3 linked regions of the Homo sapiens genome follow. The protein of the gene in region 1 purifies or fractionates together with the protein of each later gene. This does not show direct contact. Each region holds a gene or a part of one and is shown in the gene's direction. Other genes may lie near its edges.

Region 1 (8,487 bases):
TTTATTTTATTTATTTAATTAATTAATTAATTTTTTGAGGCGTCTTACTCCGTCACCCAGGCTGGAGTGCAATGGCACAATCTCAGCTCACTGCAACCTCTGCTTCCTGGGTTCAAGCAATTTTCCTGCCTCAGCCTCTCAAGTAGCTGGGACTACAGGCACATGCCACTACACCTGGCTAATTTTTGTATTTTTAGTAGAGCTAGGGTTTTGCCATGTTGGCCAGGCTAGTCTTGAACTCCTGACCTCAAGTGATCTGCTCGCCTCAGCCTTCCAAAGTGCTGGGATTACAGGCATATGCCACAGCGCCCGGGCCGGAATTTTGATATAGGAGTTAAAGAGAAATTATTTAGGCAGATAGTGAGGGTGAGGAAGTTCTCAGTAAGGTTTTCCTTTTAATGAAAAGCAGCCCCCAAATCATCTTGTTTCTAACAAAGAGCAGCCTGTAAAATGGAGCTGCACACATGTACAAGCAAGCTGGAAGCTTGCATGGGTGAATGCCAGCAGTTGTGCCAATAGGAAAAGGCCACCTGGGACTAGGCATGTTCAAAATGGTGGCTCCATCTTCCCTTTTCTTTTCCAACCGTGTGTGCAGTAGGGAGCAGACAACATGGTACTGACCAAGTGGAAAGCCTATTTGCATAATAAGATTAGGGTAGGGCAGCCAGCTTCCTCGCACACTATGTAAACATCACACCCGGTCCAACCAATCTGTGGGCCCTATGTAAATCAGACACTGCCTCCTCAAGCCTGTCTATAAAATCTGGTGCACTCCCCCGTGGGCTAGAATTCCCATTAGGGAGCTGCCCCCATGTCTGTCTGTCTGTCTGTCTCTCTCCCTCTCTCTCCCTCCCCCCCTTCAAGAGAGGGAGCTGTTCTCCTTTCTCTTTCTTGTGCTATTAAACCTCACTTCATGTGTGTGTCCACATCCTCGATTCCCTTGGTGTGAGACAACAAGCCTTGGGTATTACCCCAGACAATGATGCTGCTTCAGAATCAATATTGTGAAAATGACAATACTGACAAAAGCAATCTATAAATTCAATGCAATTTGCATTCAAATACCATCATCATTCTTCAAAGAACTTGAAAAAAAAATCCTAAAATTCATATGAAACAAAAAAAGACCCCAGATAGCCAAAGCAAGACTAAGCAAAAAGAACAAATCTGGAGGCAACACACCCTCTGAATTCAAACTATACCACAAGGCTATAGTTACCAAAACAGCATGGTACTGGTATAAAAGTAGGCATGTAGATCAGTGCAACATAATAGAGAACCCAGAAATAAAGCCAAATATTTACAGCCAACTGATCTTTGACAAAGCATACAAAAACATAAAGTGGGGAAAGGACACCCTATTCAACAAATGGTGCTGGGATGATTCGCAAGCCACATGTAGAAGAAGGAAACTGGATCCCCATCTGTGCCTGATACAAAAATCAACTCACAATGGATCAAAGACTTAAATCTGAGACCTGAAACTAAAAATTCTAGACGATAACATAGGAAAAATTCTTGTACACACTGGCTTAGGCAAAGAGTTCATGACCAATAATCCAAAAGCAAATACAACAAAAACAAAGGTAAATAGATGGGACCTAATTAAATTAAAAAGCTTCTGCACAGCAAAAGAAATAATCAGCAGAGTAAACAGACAATCCATTGAGTGGGAGAAAAATCTTCACAAACTACGTATCCAACAAAGGGCTAATATCCAGAATCTACAAATAACTCAAACAAATCAGCAAGAAAAAAATAAATTATCCCATCAAAAAGTGGGCAAAGGACATGAATAGACAATTCTTAAAAGAAAATATACAAATTCACCGGACACAGTGGCTCACGCCTATAATCCCAGCACTTTGGGAGGCCGAGGCGAGCATTGTCTGAGGCCAGGAGTTCAAGACTAGCCTGGCTAACATGGTGAAACCCCATCTCTACTAAAAATACAAAAATTAGCTGGGGGTGGTGGTGCACGCCTGCAGTCCCAGCTACTCAGGAGGCTGAGGCAGGAAAATTGCTTCAACCAGGGAGGCAGAGGGTGCAGTCAGCCAAGATCGAGTCATTGCACTCCAGCCTGCGCAACAGAGCAAGACTCCGTCTCAAAAACCAAAACAAAACAACAACAACAAATATATATATATATATATATAAATTGCCAATAAAGAAATGAAAAAATGCTCAACATCATTAATTATCAGGGAAATGCCAATCAAAACCACAATGAGATACCACCTTACTCCTGCAAGAATGGCCATAATTAAAAAATAAAAAAAAACAGATGTTGGCATGGATGTGGTGAAAGGGGAACACTTTTACACTGCTGGTGGGAATGTAAACCAGTACAACCACTATGGAAAACAGTATGTAGATTCCTTAAAGAACTAATAGTAGAACTACCATTTGATCCAATAATCCCACTACTGGGTATCTACTCAAAGGAAAAGAAGTCATTATATGAAAAAGACACTTGCACACACGTTTATAGCAGCACAGCTCACAGTTGCCAAAATACAGAACCAGCCTAAATGCCCATCGACCAACGAGTGGATAAAGAAAATGTGGTGTATATACATATATATACATATGGGAATACTACATATATATATATATATATATATATATATATATATATATATATATATATGGGAATATATATGGGAATACTACTAACTCAACCACAAAAAGGAACAAAATAATGGCATTTGCAGCAACCTGGATGGAGCTGGAGACCATCATTCTAAGTGAAGCAACTCAGGAATGGAAAACAAAACATGGCATGTTCTCACTATTAAGCAGGAGCTAAGCTATGAGGATGCAAACTCCTAAGAATTATATAATGGACTTTGGGGACTGGCGGCGGGGAAGGGTGGGCGAGGGAGTGAGGGATAAAAGACTACATACACATTGGATACAGTATACACTGCTCAGGTGATGGGTGCACCAAAACCTCAGAGATCACCACTAAAGAACTTTTCCATGCAACCAAACATCACCTGTTCCCTCAAAACTGTTGAAATAAAAATAAAAATGTAAAAAAAAAAAGGATATCAATGCTAAGAAAATCAGACTGTAAAAATGACAACTATAAAAGCACTATATAGTACATTGGTTAAGGGAGAGCTTAGGGGAAAATTTATATAAATACATATAGTAATAAATAAGAAATATGAATAAAAATAAACATCAGTGGTAGAAATTAGAGAACAGCATATAAGCCTAAACACAGAAGAAGGGGGGGGGCACGGTGGCTCACGCCTATAATCACAGCACTTTGGGAGGCTGAGGCAGGAGGATTGCTTGAAGCCAAGAGTTTGAGACCAGGCTGGGCAACGAAGCAAGACCCTGTTTCTAAAAAAAAAAAGAGGCAAGAATCAGAAAACAGAAAAATATTAAAAGCAATAAATATCAATGCAAGAACAAATAATAAAAGATAAACTATAGCTAGCTAATAGAGGAAACTGGATGGCTGAGGAAGGATGTGGAGAGGAGATTTACTTTAGAAATTCATTTATTATTAAATATTTCAGACATACCAGAAGGTACAAACAATAATATAAGGCATGCTTGTGAAATTAACATTAACCTAAATAACAAAACATTACCAAGGCATGTGAAGCCTTTCTGTTCTTCTCCATTACATCTCCTTCCAGTTTACCACTATCTTGAAATTTTAGTTACTCCAATACATGACTTTATAATTTCATGACATATGTACACTCCTAAAATTTTATATTCTTTTGCACGTTTTTAAATATATAGATGTTATTTTACACTATATATTTTTTATTTCCTTTTCTAAGAGATGGGTGTCCCCACTGGCCTCCAACTCCTGGGCTTAAGAGATTCTCCTGTCTCAGCTTCCCGAGAAGTTGGGACCACAGGAACACGCCACCGCACCCGGCTTGCGATGAGAGGAGTTAAACTTGTTTTGTTTTGGTTTGTGTCTTTTTTTTTTCTTTTTGTGAATAACGGGGTCTCGCTATATTGCCCAGGCAGTTCTCCAACTCCTGGGCTCAAGCGATCCTCCCGCTTCATCCTCCCTAAGTGCTGGATTACAGGCGTGAGCCAAAGCGCCCACCAACCCTGTTTTTTGGGTTTTTCATGCTAGTAAACATAGCACTGGTTCATTCTTCGTACCTGCTATATACTATTATATAAATACGCCACTATTTACTTATTACTTCTGTCAATGGCACTTATGTTTCCTGCTCTTTTGCAACTTATAAAGTTTGCTATGAATATTCTTGTATTTGTAGATACGTGGGCGAGAATTTTCCTAGAAGAGTGGTAGGCACGTGTAATTTTACAAGCTATTTCCTAGTTGCTCTGCTAAGGGTTTGTGCCATTTAGACTACCAAACCCGCTGAGTTTATCTCGTTGCTCCAAAGCTCATCAACACCCGACAGAGAGGCTTACTTTTCATTCTGCCTCCTGTTTTATTGTTCATGGTACTTCACGTTACACAATTCCTCGAATTTTATTTCAATTACTCCTCACAATCACCCTGTAGGTTAGGTACGATTTTTCACATTTTACAGATAAGAAAACAAAGAATCTCTTCGTTGGTTGAAACAACAGTTTTTCTTCTATTTAAATCAATGTCTTACTTTTCAACCTCGCTCACTGTTATCTTTTTGCTCCCAGCGCTGGAAAAAGTGGGACATCCCCTTCGGTGGGTGTACGGGGTTGGTATCCAAAGTTGGCAGCTTTCCCTCCCCCTCCTCCATCCACCGTCTCCAAAACCCCGTCTCCGCACTTCGCCACCCGGAGACCGCTGTAGCTCTGTAACGCGGAGGAACGACAGGGTTTGAACCACTGGAGACCCCGTAGTCCCCATCTCACTTCCCTCTGCCCCCCCTCTGCGTTCTAGGGGGCGCCCTCCGCCGCGCTGGAAAAGGCGGGGCCGGCAACTCCGGGCAACAAGATGCGTTGGGATAGGCCGAGGTTTGCGGCGCTAGTGCTCTGGTCACCGGAAGTCCCTCTGTTTCTCCCTCTCCTGAGTCGCTGTCGCGGAGGCTGGAGCGCTGCCCCGGAAGTCCTCCCCCCTGTTCCCCGCCCGCGGCAAACATGGCGGTGGACTCGGCGATGGAGCTGTTATTTTTAGATACTTTTAAACACCCGAGCGCTGAGGTAAGGCTTGGCGACTTGATTCTGACGCTGCTTCTTGACTTGGGATCTTTACAAAAAAACCGTTAGGCGTTCTCCACTTTTCCTTCTGCAGATTGCTTCTTTAATTTCTCGCTTACACACAGACACCCTCCCCCGAGCTGTGTGAGCATCGCGTCTGAGGGAGGGCTGCAGCAGCCCCTTCATTTCCTTGCTTTAACTTGGGCCCTCCGTGTCTTTGGTCGAGTTGGCTTTTCTGCTTGCATGGCTTTATTTTTTATTTTTCCTGTCAGGTTTGGGCCTTGAGAAGGATCAGGGTTCTCAGGTTTACCTCAGATGGCGTTTGGGAGGGGTCTTGGTTTGCCAGTAGTGTTTGACAGTAGTGCCGGAGTCTGAGCAGTTTACGTTGGCTTCGTGGTTTCCGAATCACGATGTTTCTAAATCCTTTCTCTTTGGCCTCTTTTCTGTCGGGAATTATGTTCCCCAGTTGTGACACTTACTTGGTTTAGGATTACGGTGCTCTCCGATTTGGCCTGAAACTTTAATACTTGTCTCTCGGAGAGATTTCACACATTAGGAATGAGATGCATTCACGGAGAATACTTGCGAAGAGGGGAGAGTTGAGAGAATTATAGTTAAACTCATCAGCAGACATCTCCTTTGAGGTTGGAGGTGGAATGTTGTGGAGTAATATTTCTGTACAAAACTACTTGAGCGCCCCTTAATGTACAATTGGCCCTGCAATATGTAGATTAAACATAGCTGGTTAACTAAAGATTCCTGAAAGCAGACCAAAAATGAACTTGAATGAAGTCTACGGAGAAATTGTTAAAAAAAAAAACGAACTTCACATTTTTCTGTCTTAATGTAAGCTTAATTTAGAGAACTGTTCTTTCTTTGGAGATTATTTTTTTCCTTTTATTTTTATCAAGTGTGCTCTTGTATCAAGCTTTTTGAGGACAGATATAATTTCTCTTTTTCTCAGCTGTATCTCCAGTGCCTAGGACAGTATTAGCAAAATGTAGGTGCTCAATAAATATTTGAATGGAAAATGTTTAAAATGTTCTTTCTTTTATGAGATAGTAATGATAGTGGGTAGTGATTGTATCATAATGCTTTACTTGGCAAAATAAAAAGTTGACAGCTGTGATCTAATTTAACGAATGGTTTATAGGTTTGTAAAAGTCAAAAGTTGGAGAACTTTGAGTTAGCATTTCTTACTGACAGTTAATTTATGGTCTGACATTTAATGTGGGTCAGTTAGCACTGTTTGTTCAATGACTATATCTAACATTCTAGCCGAGATTTAGAAAACCCTCAATGGAGGCAGTAGTTGGATCAGAACAAACTTATGGTGTATAGAAATAGAGAACAGTTAAAACTGAAAGAGCCTGGCGCAGTGGCTCATGCCTGTAATCTCAACGTTTTGGGAGGCGGAAGCAGAAGGATTGCTTGAGTCCAGGAGTTTGAGACCATCCTAGGCAACACAGTGCAACCCCTGTCTCTACAAAAGAAAATTAACTAGTTGTGGTGGTTTGATCTTGTTGCCCCAGCTACTCGGGAGGCTGAAGTGGAAGGATCATTTGATCCTGGGAGTTCAAGGCTGCAGTGAGCTAAGATCACACCACTGTGCTCCAGCCTGAGCAACAGAGTGAGACCCTGTCTCGAAAGGAAGAAAGAGAAAAAGGAAAAAGAGAAAGAGGCATGTGATGAATTAGTTTAGTACTATTCTAGTTTAGGAAAATTGGCCTTCATTAGTTTATCATGTATTTCTATTCTTTTATTCATTCTTAGGTAAACATTGAATACCTTGAGAGCATAGGGCAGATGGTAAATGCTTTCTTCTGGGGTGATTGGGGAAGGCTTAGCAGAGATCACATTTAAATCAAGTCTTGAAGGAGGAAGTAGGGGTTTGTGGGTGATACGAAATATTGAAATGTTTGTTTTCAAGAAGTTATAACTCAGTATTGGAGATTAGATTCACAAAATTGTGATTTGAGTTAGAATGTGATGATCACATAAAGAAGCACAGTGTGAATTCGTTGGGGTTTATCATCTTAGTTTACAAAATGCCCATCAGTATCTGACGTATTAGAACTAGCTCCCTTTGTGGGTATAAATAAAAGATACAAGATTTCAGAAGAGGCAGAGATAACTTTTCATTTGAGTGTATCAGGAAAGACTTCATCAAGGTGTTTGGCTTATGAACTTGGTCTTTGGTGAAAGGGGCAATATTTCACAGTTGTAGTTAGGAAAGGAGGGCATTCTACTGGGGTAGTCAGTCGTCTGTTAGGGTATGCTTGAAGTAGCAGTGTGAAGTGGCACCCAAGGCAATTCAAAGACAGATCATGGAGCTCCTTGAATGCTCGACAAAGAATTACAGACTTTAGGCCAGGCGCAGTGGCTCACGCCTGTAATCCCGGCACTTTGGTGAGGCTGAGGTGGGTGGATTGCCTGACGTCAGGAGTTCGACACCAGCCTGGGTAACACAGTGAAACCCCGTCTCTACTAAAATACAAAAAATTAGCTGGGCGTGGCGGTGTGCGTCTATAGTCCCAGCTACTCGGAAGGCTGAGGCAGGAGAATTGCTAGCACCCGGGAGGAGGAGGTTGCTGTGAGCCAAGATCACGCCACTGCACTCCAGCCTGTGCGACAGAGCAAGACTCTGTCTTTTAAAATAAATAAATACATAAATAAATAAAAATTATGGACTTTATTTTGTAGGAAATGGGTAGTTTTTGAGCAGGCGAATCATACAATTAGTAAGATACATTAGATAGATTACTTGATCAATAATACTTAAAATGGTTCAGAGAAGGCCAGGCGCCGTGGCTCATGCCTGTAATCCCAGCACTTTGGGAGGCCGAGGCAAGCGGATCACGAGGTCAGGAGATCGAGACCATCCTGGCTAACATGGTGAAACCCTGTCTCTACTAAAAATACAAACAAATAGCCGAGCGTGGTGGCAGGTGCCTGTAGTCCCAGCTACTCAGGAGGCTGAGGCCGGAGAATGGCGTGAACCCGGGAGGCAGAGCTTGCAGTGAGCCGAGATTGTGCCACTGCACTCCAGCCTGGGTGACAGAGCGAGACTCCGTCTCAAAAAGAAAAAAAAAAAAAATGGTTCAGAGAAAATAGAGGTGAGGTGACAAAATCAGAGAGAAAAAGTGAGATGTTATGAAAACCTGAGTTAGCCAATGGGCAGTAAGCATTGTTTAACATTTATTGAATGCTTAATTTGTGCCAGACACAGTGGGCTTTGATAACTTAAGTAAATCATCTCTGGTCCTTCCATCAGTTTTTTTTTTTTTTTTTAAGACTAGGTCTTGCTCTGTCACCCAAGCTGGAGTGCACTGGTGCGATCACAGCTCACTGCAA
Region 2 (7,442 bases), on another chromosome or scaffold:
AAATAATGAAACCAGTGTGTGTTTGTGGATAGTTCTATTAGTAGTGAATCCATGGCCTCCTTTCCATATACAGGTTGGTTTGAAAATTGGAGTATAAGGATTTTAGGATTTGTAGAAACACGGCTATTGTTTTGATTTGCTCTAAGTGCTAGTTGCTGAAACAAAGCATAGAGGAACAGTTCTTTTATATTCCAAAATTTGAACCCTGGTTGCTGACAGACATCCTAGAGGATTACCTTCTTGTATGTTATTAAGAGTTACATATTGTGGGAATTATGGAAATTAAAAATGTGGTTTAGGAGAAGATAGGCTGAGGATTTTACATAAGAGGGTAGTTTTTAAACAAGGTAGTGTTTTTAAGAAATGTGTATTTTAGTATTCGTAAAGCCAGTTCTAGATTGTATTACTGATAAATGATCATTTAAGAGTTCATAAGTATGAATTCCATATTCCTTACTTGTCTCTAATTAGCAAACACTGAATTCCTGGTCTCTACCAAGTTGCTTAGTTACATAGGAAACTAGGGTACCCTCATCCTTGAATAATCTTTCTCTAAAAGATTACAAGGTTAATTTTCTCAATTAAAATCATAAATTTAAAATACTTTTATGTAATATCAGCTCTCTACCAGGTATAAAACTTGAAAACCTTTTCACAGGGAGAATGAAGTTGAAGAGGTAAAAGAGGAGGGTCCAAAAGAGATGACTTTGGATGAGTGGAAGGCTATTCAAAATAAGGACCGGGCAAAAGTAGAATTTAATATCCGAAAACCAAATGAAGGTGCTGATGGGCAGTGGAAGAAGGGATTTGTTCTTCATAAATCAAAGAGTGAAGAGGTAAAATTAAGTTTTGTCGTGTTTGAAAATGTTCAGATGTGACTTGAATTGTATTTATAATTTTTGTTTTAAAATTTCACATGGGTTATTTGTCTGTTAAAGCTTTACATAGGATCATTTGGGGCAGATAATTTGCTTTATAAGGAAAATAAACTGTATTATCACATATTCTAAGAAATTTAGTCCTTTGATCAATTTGTAATTATGTTTTATGTGGTAGAGTTACTTTTTCCTAAAAAGCTGTTAGTGGAGTATCTTGTAGTTATTGGTGTTCAGAAATATGATAGTTCTTTTCAAAGTTGTGGTTGTATTTTTGAAATCTTGCCAAACTGGGGATCATTAAAGGGCTGTGGTATTATGGTGTTAGGTTGAAATCTTGACATTTTCATATGGTTTAACCTAAAATGTAAGTGACTTCATTTAGAATTCAACTTTTGAAACTGTCTGCCTATACCATATATAATGGCCAGGACACTCAGTAAATGGCAATGTGCATTTTGTCTAAGGAATGACGACTTTAAAAACCAAAGTATATGTGGGTTTTACTTAAGAAACATGGAAACTAGTGAAAATACAGTTGACTTGTTGAACAACATGAGGATGCTAGGGGCACTGACCCCGCAGATCAATGCACATGTAACCTTTGACTCTCCCAAAACTTAACTACTAATAACCTGTTGACTGAAAGTCTTAGTGATAACATAACCAGTTAACACATTTTGTATGTTGCGTATTATATACTGTGTTTTTACAGTAAAGTAAGCTAAAGAAAATGTTGAGAAAATATATTTACTGTTCATTAAGTGGAACTGGATCATCACAAAGGTCTTTATTTTGGATAGGAAGAAAAGGGATTGGGCTTGCTTGTCTCAAGACTGACAGAGGCAGAATGTTCAAAGCCACGTTGTTCAAGGGTCAACTGTATTGGAGAAAGTCACATTGATGGCTTTTGATTTGGTAGCTTCCGTTTAAGCTTTGGGGTGTGTTCTTAGAGGAATGTTTCAGTGCGGCTTCCTGTTTGGCTTTAAAAACTCATACAAGCCCTAACTATATTATTTCTTCTCCTAAATTCATTTTCTCTATCAGCTTCCTTTAACCTTTTGACATTTGTGTTTGATTTATTCATATCATAAATTGGGCTGTGCCAGAAATCCAGACTGAGTTTTATCATCCTAAGGTAAAGTTAAATTAAAATATTGTGAGGGCAAACCCTTTCAATAAGGTATTAGTTATTTTTATTTTTTTTTTTTGAGACAGAATCTGGCTCTGTCGCCCAGGCTGGAATGCAGTGGCACCATCTCTGCTTACCGCAACCTCCACCTCCCGGATTCAAACAGTTCTTGTGTCTCAACCTCCTCAGTAGCTGGGATTACGGACACTCGCCACCATGCCCGGATAATGTTTGTGTTTTTAGTAGAGATGAGGTTTCATCATGTTGGCCAGGCTGGTCTCAAACTCCTGGCCTCAGTGATCCCCGCCTGCCTCAGCCTCCCAAAGTGCTGGGATTATAGGCGTGTGCCACCATGCCCAGCCAATAAGCATAATTTTTTAAACTGCAAAATGGCTATAAGACAAACTTGGAAACATTTTAAAATAAAATGGAGGTTAAAAAGATTAAAAGTTTTTTTAGGTTTAGAGATGATTTTTAACATTTACTTCATATGAGTAGTAAATGAGGACATTGTCTTTTTTAAGTCCTGTAGAAAAAAAACTGCATTAGAACACGTGGTTTCAGCCAGGCGCAGTGGCTCACACCTGTAATCCCAGCACTTTTGGGAGACTGAGGCGGGCGGATCACCTGAGGTCGGGAGTTCAAGACCAGTCTGACCAACATGGAGAAACCCCGTCTCTACTAAAGATACAAAATTAGCCTGGTGTGGTGGTGCATGCCTGTAATCCCAGCTACTCAGGAGGCTGAGGCAGGAGAATCACTTTAACACAGGAGGCAGAGGTTGCAGTGAGCTGAGATCACACCACTGCACTCCAGCCTGGGCAACAGAGCAAGACTGTCTCAAAAAAAAAAAAAAAAAAAAAAAACAACACTTTAACTTTCACATGTCTTCATTCTCGTGACAAATGTGAGGTAGTTAAGGGGAAGGAAGAAACTATTTACAAATGGAGAACTGTGTTACCGTGTTATTGACAGAGCTCAGAGTTTCTGTTTTCTGCTCCTCATTGTCTGAGTGCTCTAGAAAAAAGGTCGGACACAGTGGCTTACACCTGTAATCCCAGCACTTCGGGAGGCTGAGGTGGGCAGATTGTTGAGTTAAAAGTTTGAGACCAGCCTGGGTAACATGGCAAAACCCTGTTTCTACAAAAAATATAAAAATTATCTGGATGTGGTTGCGTGCACCTGTGGTCTCAGTTACCTGGGAGGCTGAGGCGGGAGAGGATCACTTGAGCCCAGGAGGCAGAGGTTGCAGTGAGCCAAGATAGCATCACTGCATTCCAACCTAGTTGACAGAGCAAGACTGTTTCAAAAAAAGGAAAAAAGAAAAAAAAAAAGGATCCCCCTGCCCTGACTTTATCCCAGTACAGTTTCTTGGTATCTGCAGGGGATTCGTTCCAGGACCCAGAGATATTAAAATTTTCAGATGCTCATGTCCATTATATAAAATGGCATAGTATCTGCATATAGCCTAAACACGTTTTCCCTATACTTTATTTTTTATTGTTTCTATTTTTTAATTTAAAATATAGAACAATTTACAGTTTTGCGTGTCATCCTTGTGGGGATCATGCTAATAATCTTTGTATTGTTCCACTTTTAGTATATATGCTGCCAAAGTGAGCACTCCCTCATACACTTTATTTTGAGACAAGGTCTTGCTCTGTCATGTAGGCTGGAATGCAGTAGCATGGTCACAGCTTACTGCAGCCTCAACCTCCCCGTGCTCAAGCGATCCTTCTAGCTCAGCCTCCTGAGTAGCTGGAACTACACACCTGTGCCAACTCCTGGACTCAAGCAGCCCTTCTGCCTATGCCTCCCAGAGTGCTGGGATTACAAGTGTCAGCCACCACACCTGGCCTACTTTTTATTGTTATATGGTTGGTTGGTTTTATTTTTTTCTGAATATTTTCGATCTGTGGTTTGCAATAAATTGAAAGCATTGGTTTGAAATAGCAAACATTTAAAAATCACACAATTAGTATATATAATTGATTCTAATTTGCTGGTGTTTTGTGAATTTGTTTTTATGTTTCTAGCCTCCTTTAAAATTTGTATTAGAACATTCTATTGCCTTACAGTGTGTTGGTTTGGTACAAAGGAGTGACATTTAATACTAGTATGAGTTGATGTAAGGGGTGAAAACATGGATAAAAACACAAAAATTTATTTGTACTTTAAAGGCTAGTTATTAACAGCTGTAATATTTTAAGTTGAGTCTAATGGAATTGTAATAGTACAAGTTCTAATGAAAGAACAAAATGTTCTTTATCCCTTTAGAAAAGAAGATTCCTTAGATGTATTTAGGAAAAGAGGAAAAGAAAGCTGTACTTTCAAGTCCTATAAGTACAGTTTTCAACTAGAAGATTAAAACCCATCCCAAGCGTACAAGAAGACATCAGGCATGAAGCAGTATAGAATTGTCTGGCTTTTTGCTTTTTTCCCCCAGACTGGGTCATGTATCTTAAACGCAAATAGAAAAGAGGATCTGGATTTCACAAACATGACTTCATTTTTAAGAAGTTTCTAGCTGGGCATGGTGGCTCATGCCTGTAGTCCCAGCACTTTGGAAGGCCAAGGCCAGCGGATCGCTTGAGCCTAGGAGTTTGAGACCAGCCTGAGCAACACTGTGAAAACCTGTCTATAAAAAATACAAAAAAATTAGCCAGGTGTCATGGCATGTGCCTATAGACCCAGCTACTTGGGAGGCTGAGGTGGGAGGATCGCTTGAGCCTGGGAGGTGGAGGTTGCAATGAACCCAGATCGTGCCACTGCACTCCAGCCTGGGTGACAGAGTGAGACCCTGTCTCAAAAAAAAAAAAAAAAAAAGGTTCCTGTGACACATTTAAGGTGTGGTTTTATTTGTGCATAGCTTTACAAGATTCCCCTCTTTATGTAAAGTGTGTAGTGTTTCACTTGAATTTGTAGCTCTCCAATTTGTGTAGAAAAACGTAGTGGTTGTGTATTAACAGAAAATGCTTCTGAGAAGTTTATATCTAGTAAGGTCTTTACCCTAGTTGTAGTTGGAAGAGTGTAGAACAGAGTTTTTCTTTCTGAGTGTTCTTTTTAACTTCAGTGTTAGTGCTAGTAGTAACCTTATATGTCATCTCTCCAGAGGTCTTCATCAAGGATTCACATGGCAGTCCTGATCTGAAGGGCATATTTAAAATGTACTTGTCCAGATTTCACTGCTAAAGATTATGATTCAGTAGGTCTAGGATGGGCTTCAGCCGTTTGGGTTGATTGTGATAGCATACATGTCTTTAGTTGAGGACTGCTGGTATTACCTGCAATTTTGAGATAGAGAAAAGTGCAGGAAAATCTTCCTCCAGGATCACTAAAGCTGAGCCCTAGCTTGTTACCTGTGGAGGCATTGAGACATTTGTTCACAGAAAGTACAGTTTGGATTTTTGGTTTTTTTTAGAAGAAAGCTCATTATTTAGAAATTTTGCAATGTTACTTTTCTACTAATAACACAATCATCTTCACTTATATTTTTAGGCTCATGCTGAAGATTCGGTTATGGACCATCATTTCCGGAAGCCAGCAAATGATATAACGTCTCAGCTGGAGATCAATTTTGGAGACCTTGGCCGCCCAGGACGTGGCGGCAGGGGAGGACGAGGTGGACGTGGGCGTGGTGGGCGCCCAAACCGTGGCAGCAGGACCGACAAGGTAATTTAAGACTTTCTTTTCCTTTTACATAATTTAAGGACCTCTTATAAGTCACTGGCTGGGTCAGACTTATGTCACTTTTGGGAACATAAGTAGAAGTAGTAGCAGTGTCTTTAAGAAACCGCATGTTAGGTTATATTTATGTTTAAAGCACTTAAATGCCTTTTTGTGTAGTGCTGTTAGTAGTGTTAAGTTACCACCCTTTTGAGTTCTTTCTAGGTGCCGGTCATGGTGCTGGGCTAGGCATTTTATGTACTTAATGTCATTTAATTCTTGTTACTGTGATGACATTCTCATTTTCCAGATGAGAAAATTCTGGTATAGTGAATCAGGTTAACTCTTGGCCTTTGCTAAGGCTTACCTGAAAACCAGTCTGTTCACTTTGATAATTCCTAACTGCTTTTTAGGTCTCCACTTAATAACCATTGTGTTCCTTGTATAATTCCTCTTACGACACTTAGGATTGTTGACACTTTTTTCTTTTACTAGACTCTTCTGTGAGAGCTGGGATTCATTTTTGGCTTACTTTCTATAATCTCTCCAATGCCTTGAACAGTATGTGGCACAAAACAAGTTCTTAGAGAAATATTTTGGTGAATTCCCAAGTAATTGATAGATTTGAACTCAGATCTGATGCTTGGAAACAACCATAATGTCCTCCTAAATTCTCAACACCTTACACACAAATTTGGGGACCCACCTACTTGATTGAGTCTGTTTTTGATGATTACAGGGGTAACTTACCATTGCCAGTGTAATGATACTTTGTTCCTCCCTCTAAGACCAACCTTTTTTTTTTAAGGTGGTGGTTGTGTTGATGGGCTTTTCCCATACTTTCTTTTTTAGTTCTGTTATTTATACTTTAGGCTATAAAGAGCAGTTTGGATTCCTTTTTTCAGACTTTCAACCTTGATGATTATTGCTACTTAGATATTAGTTCCTTAGCATGCTTTCACATTGGTGCCATTCTTATTTAGCAAGTGGAAAAAGTATAAGAATACTGAACAATGCGAATTCACATACATAATTGCTTATGAATCTACTTGTATGGTTTATTGGAAAAAGTAAAACAACTGGGCTGGGCGCACTGCCTCACGCCTGTAATCCCAGTACTTTGGGAGGTCTGGGTGAACAGATCACCTGAGGTTGGGAATTTGAGACCAGCCTGGCCAACGTTGTGAAACCCTGTCTCATTAGCCAGGTGTGGTGGCACATCCCTGTAACCTAGCTACTTGGGAGGCTGAGGCACAAGAATCACCTGAACCCAGGAGGTGGAGGTTGCAGTGAACTGAGATTATGTTACTGCACTCCATCCTGAGCAACAGAGTAAGACTGTCTCCAAAAAAAAAGAGAAAAAGAAAACAACCCATATTATTACTCTGGAATGAAAATAGGCCTTGGTAGAAATTTAGGACAGGGCTCATTGCAAATACTTGTAGTTTTTTTGTGATCCATAATTTTGTCTTGATACATTTTACCTAGAATTTTAACAGTAGGATTTTTTTTTTTTTTTTTTTGAGATGGAGTCTCACTCTGTTTCCCAGGCTGGAGTGCAGTGGCACAGTCTCGGCTCACTGCAACCCTTGCCTCCCAGGTTCAAGCGATTCTCCTGCCTCAGCCTCTTGAGTAGTGGGATCACAGGTGCCTGCCACCACACCCAGCTAATTGTTTATATTTTTAGTACAGACAGGATTTCACCATGTTGGCCAGGCTGGTCTCAAACTCCTGACCTCAGGTGATCCACCCACCTTGGCCTCCCAAAG
Region 3 (7,442 bases), on another chromosome or scaffold:
CTCCGGAGTAGCTGGGATTACTAAGTGCAAGCTACCACGCCCGGCTTATTTATTTATTTATTTATTTATTTATTTTGAGATAGTCTTGCTGTGTCTCCCAGGCTGGAGTGCAGTGGCATAATTGCGGCTCACTGCAACCCGTGCCTCCTGGGTTCAAGCAACTCTCCTGCCTCAACCTCAAGGAGCTGGGATTACAGGTGTGTGCCAACATGCCTGCCTAATTTTTTTGTATTTTTGATAGAGAGGGTTTCACCATGTTGGCCAGGCTGGTCTCAAACTCCTGACCTCGTGATCCACCTCGGCCTCCCAAAGTGCTGGGATTGCAGGCTTCAGCCACCGTGCCCAGCCTGATTTTTTAATTTTTAGCAGAGATGGGGTTTCATCATATTGGTGAGTCTGGTCTTTAACTCCTGACCTCAGGTGATCCACTCGCCTCAGCCTCCTAAAGTGCTGGGATTACAGGTGTGAGCCACCGCACTTTCGGATTTCTTTGAGAACGTAACTCACTGTGGGGCATAACAGACAGCCCTGATTGTTGGGGGTAGTGTTGTGTGCTGGTGAGAATATGGAGAGAAGGAACAGGGCCCTCTGCATTTGTAGAGGTCCTGAGACAGGAAAGACTCCGTGTGTTTAGAGACTTGAGAGAAGACTTGTATAGCTTGGGTACTTTTTCAGTGGGGAGAAGACCTCACATGAGATTGCCAGAGAAGGCAGAGGCCATGTTGGGGTTTTATTCTAGAGGTGTAAGAAGCCATTGTAGGGAGTTTCATGATTTGATTTCCTTTTTAAGACTCCTGCTAGTGCTTGGAGAAGGCTTGTGTTTGTGTGCATGTGGAAGCAGAGAGTTGAGCTAGGAAGATGGTGGAGTACGAGGTGGTAGGGATGAAGGGAGCTGTATTTTGGAGAAATGAGACAGGACTTAAATATGGATTGGGGCTGGACAGGGAGGCTCATGCCTATAATCCTGTTTTTTTGGGAGGCTGAGTTGGGAGGATCACTTGAAGCTAGGAGTTCAAGACCAGCCTGAGCAACTTTATGAGACCCCGCCTCTAAAAAAAAAAAAATCAACCAGGCATGGTGACACGCTCTGTAGTCCCAGCTACTCAGGAGGCTGAGGTGGTAGGATTCATTGCTTGAGCTTGGGAGGTGGAGGTTGCAGTGAGCTCTGATCATGTCACACTGCAGCCTGGGTGACAGAGTGAGACCCTGTCTCAAACAAAAGAAAAAAAGGGAGGAAGGGAGGGAGGAAGGAAGGAGAAAGAAAGAAAACAGAATGGTGGTTGTTAGGGGCCAGGTGAAGGGGAATAGGGAGCTATTGTTATGGGTACAGAGTTCGGTTTGGGAAGATGAAAAAAGTTCTGGAAATGGATCGTGAATATATGTAATGCCGCTGAGGCATACAGTATTTAAAAACAGTTCAAGGCTGCTGTGAACTATGATCATGCCCCTGCACTCCAGCCTGGGCAACACAGTGAGACCCTGACTCAGAAAAAAAGAAAATGGACTGGATGTTGGGGGCCTAGGGTAAAGTTGCTTCCTCAGTGATTCCCTTCTACTCTCCCAACATAACCTTTCATGATGAGCTTTTAGTCATATCTTAAGACTCAGCACTTTCGTTTCTGGTAGCAAATTTTTTAGCACTGGGTGGTGCATTACATTATGCTGTACGTTATTATTGATGTACCTGTTTGCCTTTACTGCTAGGAAGGGAGCCTTGTAAGCTCCTTGAAGGCAGGAACTGAGAGTCTTAGTTCTTGTCTTGGTGCTTAGTACCTGGCATGGAGGGCAAATTAGATGCTTGTTGAGTGAAGGAGGAAAAAGTCTTTTCTGCCTGGAGTCTAGCTTGTGGATGGAATGATAACAGATGAGGCAACAGTCAGATTATGGAGGGCCTCCAATAACAAATTTGGGCAAACTGAGAACCATCTACAGCCCATTCTTCTTCCTTGCCACCCAGATCTAATCACTGATGAAATCCTCTCCATGCAGTCCTCAGCTTATGTGTAATATATTCTTTTTTTCTCCTATTTCTTTTTTTTTTGAGATGGAGTTTTGCTCTTGTTGCCCAGGCTGGAGTGCAATGGCGTGATGTCGGCTCACTGCAACCTCTGTCTCCTGGGTTCAAGTGATTCTTCTGCCTCAGCCTCCCAAGTAGCTGGGATTACAGGCATGTGCCACCACACCTGGCTAATCTGGTATTTTAATTTTATTTATTTTATTTATTTTTATTTTTTTTTGAGATGGAGTCTTGCTCTGTCACCCAGGCTGGAGTGCAGTGGTGCGATCTTGGCTCCCTGCAACCTCCGCCTCCCGGGTTCATGCCGTTCTCCTGCCTCAGCCTCCCTAGTAGCTGGGACTGCAGGCGCCTGCCACCACACCCGGCTAACTTTTTTTGTTTGTTTGTTGTTGTTGTTGAGACGGAGTCTCGCTCTGTCACCAGGCTGGAGTGCAGTGGCACGATCTTGGCTCACTGCAACCTCTGCCTCCCGTGTTCAAGTGATTCTCCTGCCTCAGCCTCGCAAATAGCTGGACTACAGGCACATGCCACCACGCCCAGCTAATTTTTGTATTTTTAGTAGAGATGGCATTTCACCATGTTGGCCAGGATAGTCTTGATCTCTTGACCTCGTGATCTGCCCACCTCGGCCTCCCAAGGTGCTGGGATTACAGGTGTGAGCCACCACACCCGGCTGATATTTTTATTTTTAAAATACATTATTTTCTTGATTTTTCCCATACCTTCCTTTAGTTTTTTGAACATCTGTAAGACAGTTGTTTTAATGTCTTTGTCTAGTAGGTCTTCCATCTGGTCTTTCTCTGGGACAGTTTTTGTTTTTTTTTTGAGATGGAGTTTTGCTCTCGTTGCCCGGACTGGAGTGCAATGGCGTGATCTTGGCTCACTGCACTGCCTCCTGGCTTTAAGCGATTCTCCTGCCTCAGCCTCTTGAGTAGCTGGGATTACAGGCATGCGCCACCACACCTGGCTAATTTTGTATTTTAAGTAGAGACAGGGATTCTCCATGTTGGTCAGGCTGGTCTTGAACTCCTGACCTCAGGTGATCAGCCAGCCTTGGCTTCCCAAAGTACTGGGATTACAGGCATGAGCCACCGTGCCCAGCAACTGGGACAGTTTTTATTGGTTAATTTTTTTTTTCTTTTAATGGGTCATACTTTCCTGTATCTTTGTATGACCTGGGACTTTTTAATTTTTTTTTGAAAACTGGACATTTGAATCTAATGATGTGCTAACTCTGAAAATTGGACTCTTCTCATTCCCAGGGTTTGCTGGATTTTTTTGTTTATTTGTTACAGTTTGTTTTTATGCTGAGGATCAGCCTGAGATACAAACTTAAGGACTTCTCAGGTCTTTTTTGAGCCTGCACCTTTCCCTGGGCGCATGCACCATGGTAACTTTTTTCCTTATCTCCCCCGCACCCTCATGATTGCTTTTGAATATCCTAGTCTTTAAAGTCTAGCTCCTAAAGAGGAAAAAGAGAAAAATGAAGGAAGTAGGGAGGTGGGGGCCCTTGGCCCATTAAATTTCCTGGAAGTCTACTTCAGCTGGAGGGGGAGGACTTGCAGTCATGGAGGGGGTGCAATAATGGCTATCCTTCTCAGTGTCTGCCTATCCCTGATTATAAGCAGCAATCAGCAATTAGAATACGGATCCCTAATATTTGGAGGACAGGGTCCTTATTACCCATCCTGGTTCCCAAAAGCTGCTTGCAAGCTGTTTCAGGAATGCATTGTAGGTTGTCTGCCCGTGGCTGGGGGCTAGGGAATGGGGTAGCTGCTGCTCAGCTAAGGGCTGAAATTGACTGAAATTAACCCAATTTACTGTCCCAGTCTTTCCTTGGAAGTTGCAAGCTTTCTTCAACAGTCCCCAGAATTACATCTGACTAATTATGCCAGTGTAATTGTCTAGGTGGGGAGACTGATCTTGGTGCTTCCTACTCTGCTGTTTTAGAATCTGGAATCCTCTCCCAGAATTTCTTTCCTTTTTTTTTTTTTTTTTTTTTTTTTTTTTATGAGATGGAGTTTCACTCTTGTCGCCCAGGCTGGAGTGCAATGGCGCGATCTTGGCTCACCACAACCTCCGCCTCCCGGGTTCAAGCGATTCTCCTGCCTCAGCCTCCTGAGTAGCTGGGATACAGGCATGCGCCACCATGCCTGGCTAATTTTGTTATTTTTAGTAGAGACGGGGTTTCTCCATGTTGGTCAGGCTGGTCTTGAACTCCTGACCTCAGGTGATCCACCCGCCTCGGCCTACCAAAGTGCTGGGATTGCAGGAGTGAGCCACCGTGCTCAGCCGGATTTCTTTCCTTTTAAAGGCTGAATAATGTTCCATTTATTGTATGTATATGCCATATTTTGTTTATCCATTCATACTTTTTTTTTTGGAGGGGACAGAGTCTCTGTTGTCCAGGCTGGAGTGCAGTGGTGCGATCTTGGCTCACCACAACCTCTGCCTCCCAAGCTCAAAACGATTCTCCTGCCTCAGCCTCCTGAGTAGCTGGGATTACAGGTGTGCGCCACTACCACCCGGCTAATTTCTTTATTTTTAGTAGAAACGGGGTTTCACCATATTGGCCAGGCTGGTCTCTAACTCCTGACCTCAAATGATTCACCTGCCTCAGCCTCGAAAACTGCTGGGATTACAGGCGTGAGCCACCACGTCTGACCTATCCATTCATATGTTGATGGACGTTTGGATTATTTCCAAGGTATGCTACTTTTTTATAGCTCTTAAAATTTTTCCAAATTCCTCTCCAGAAATGTACTTTATCATCACCTGTGGTACATCAGGGTATTTTCCACTTTAGACATTCTTGATCTATTGTCTGAGTACTTGAAGTGGTGTGACTGTAGGCTGACTGTTGAATGAAGCTGAAAGGGGGGTTTTAATAGCAGGTCACAAACTTGGATAGAAGAGGAGATGTCTCTCGGGCTGGTTGGATATATAATAAGTTCTGGAAGGCCACATGCTGGTGATGATGTCATCCAGAAAGGGTTTGGTACTGAATTTCTGTTCAGGAACGTTCCTTGTCAGGGATGTTAGGGATCTGCCTTGTCAACTGTAGTCCTTCGTCAGCCTCTTCAGAAGTTGATGCCCACTTAGCTCTTGAAGCAGGTGTTCTAAGTAAATAATATTTTGTACTCTTATATTCTGTGGATTAGTTGTAGGTACATGCTGTTGTGAAAATAAATTCATTTGACTTCTCTGTATCTTGATTGTGGAGGTGATCACACAACTGTTATTTATTTTTTTTGAGACAGAGTCTCACCCTGTCGCCCAGTCTGGAGTGCAGTGGCATGATCTCGGCTCACTGCAACCTCCACTTCCTGAGTTCAAATGATTCTCCTGCCTCAGCTTCCTGAGTAGCTGGGATTTGCAAGCATGTGTCACCACGACCTGTTTAATTTTTGTACTTTTAGTAGAGACGGGGTTTCACCATTTTGGCCAGGCTGGTTTTGAACTCCTGACCTCAAATGATCCGTCCGCCTCCTAAAGTGCTGGGATTGCGGGCTTTAGCCACTCACCTGGCCCACACAGCTGTTTTTAGATTGGTATACGAGAGAGTGAATTTTATTGTGCATAAAAGGTGGAAAAATGAACAGGTAAAAAAATTTACTCAAAAAAATTTTGGGGGTGAGTTTGGCCTTCTATATGGAGATAATAAATAAGTAGTGAAAAACATGAACCCAATTATTCTTTCTACCTTCTCTGCCCAAATCATTTTTTTCTCAAGTGACCAAAACCACACACTTTGAGGTCTTTTTGTTGTTGTTGATACAGGGTCTCACTCAGTCATCCAGGCTGGAGTGCAGTGGTGCAATCACACCTCACTGCAGCCTTGACCTCCCGGGTTGAAAGTGATCCCCTCACCGCAGCCTCCTATGGAGCTGGGACTACAGGCGCCTGCCACAATGCCTGGCTAATTTTTGTGTTTTCTGTAGAGACAGAGTTTCACCGTGTTTCCCAGGCTGGTCTCAAACTCCTGAGCTCAAGTGATCCACCTGCCTTGGCCTCCCAAAGAGCTGAGATTACAGGCGTGACCCACTGCGCCTGGCCCACTTTGAAGTCCTAAAGAAATTTAGGTTATTATTCTATGCATGTTGGAGGATTTAAGTCTTATTAGCAGCTTCTGTTTTCTGTAAGGAAAAAGTTAAAACACATCTGGAAGAGTCTCATAGAGCAGCACTTTCTGAAACTTGCCTGGGTACCAGTATGCCTGCTTCCAGACCTTGAAGATATTACATGTACTGCTTGGTGATCTGCCCTGTCCCCCACATGTTGTGGGCCTGGATTGAATGGACTGAACAGTGTGGGGAATTAGTCCAGCGTGACTTGCCTTGTCTCATGCTGTTTGCTCACTTGTGAGAGCACTATACTGAATTATCCATTATTGAAAGTTCCAAGTGTGCAAAGAACCACACTTCAAAAATAAAATGTCAACATTGCCCTTTCTCTGTTAGAGCCTTAAATGTTCATTATTTTCTTTAGTTTTTTTTTATAACTATCAAACTTATTTTTCTCCATGTGGAAGTATGCCACAACTCCATTTCTAATGGAGCTTGAAATTAGCATGTATTTCCACTTACTTGTTGATGGGCTGTCATCGATCAACCCCTCTTTTTGATTGGGATTTAATTTGTGGTTTTTTTTTTTTACCAGCTGTAAGTTTGGAGTAATGCATGTAATGTAAATACAGTTCACAGGGCAACTTCGGATGTTCTAAATACTTGTAACATTTGCTCATTTTGAACAATATTGTATGAGTAGTGTGAAGTGATTTTTAAAATGTCTGTCATTTTTTTCATGTTCCCATTTTATTAAAAGGAGGGATGGAACTATATTGTGGAAGCTAATGTAATTTTTGTCTCTAAGAGGTTTTTTTTTCTTTTTAGACTAAAAGGGCTTAACAGAAGAAAAATTTATCTTTCTTAATTGCTAATTTAAAGGCTAATTTTTTCCCTAGATTGCTTAGTTTTGACTATTTGATTCCATCATATCAAGCTGTGAATTTCCTTCATTTTCTTGTTTTGAGGTTTCATTATTAAATATTGTCAAAAATAAGTGGCTCATCAACTCTCTTGAAAGTGTCTTATTGCTATGTTTTTTTTTGTCAGTATTTGACATTCTGAATTGAAGATGTGAGTTGGAAACCTGGTTAATTACCAAGTTACATAATCCTGTATTTATTAACTAGGTTAGACTACATACAGACTGTTCTTGAAAATGAAAGTGCTGTTATAACTCAGAAAACACATTCACTATGGCCCATTTCAAGTTAATTGAAGGATTGAGCCTTTGATAGTGCATTTGCCCTGTGCGGCTCTGTTACATGCATTCTTTCTAGGCAAAGATGCATTGTTACCATTCTCTCATGGTATGTTGAATATTTCATTAGATTCAATATTTCAATATTAATCCAAGCTTT

Evidence for each region. Proteins that work in one complex are often made in the same cells at the same time.
Region 2: the proteins of VIRMA (region 1) and SERBP1 purify together in Homo sapiens (affinity purification with mass spectrometry; 2 studies listed by BioGRID). This does not show direct contact.
Region 3: the proteins of VIRMA (region 1) and CTNNA1 purify together in Homo sapiens (affinity purification with mass spectrometry; 2 studies listed by BioGRID and IntAct, with this or other methods). This does not show direct contact.

The regions. Positions count from the first base shown.
Region 1 is NC_000008.11:94,550,034-94,558,520, reverse strand, and holds the start of VIRMA (protein virilizer homolog), read left to right. Parts: upstream 1-5,051; 5' UTR 5,052-5,073; coding exon 5,074-5,136; intron 5,137-8,487. UniProt on the Homo sapiens protein: Associated component of the WMM complex, a complex that mediates N6-methyladenosine (m6A) methylation of RNAs, a modification that plays a role in the efficiency of mRNA splicing and RNA processing.
Region 2 is NC_000001.11:67,413,403-67,420,844, reverse strand, and holds part of SERBP1 (SERPINE1 mRNA-binding protein 1), read left to right. Parts: intron 1-658; coding exon 659-836; intron 837-5,505; coding exon 5,506-5,679; intron 5,680-7,442. UniProt on the Homo sapiens protein: Ribosome-binding protein that promotes ribosome hibernation, a process during which ribosomes are stabilized in an inactive state and preserved from proteasomal degradation.
Region 3 is NC_000005.10:138,755,983-138,763,424, forward strand, and holds part of CTNNA1 (catenin alpha-1), read left to right. Parts: intron 1-7,442. UniProt on the Homo sapiens protein: Associates with the cytoplasmic domain of a variety of cadherins. The association of catenins to cadherins produces a complex which is linked to the actin filament network, and which seems to be of primary importance for cadherins cell-adhesion properties.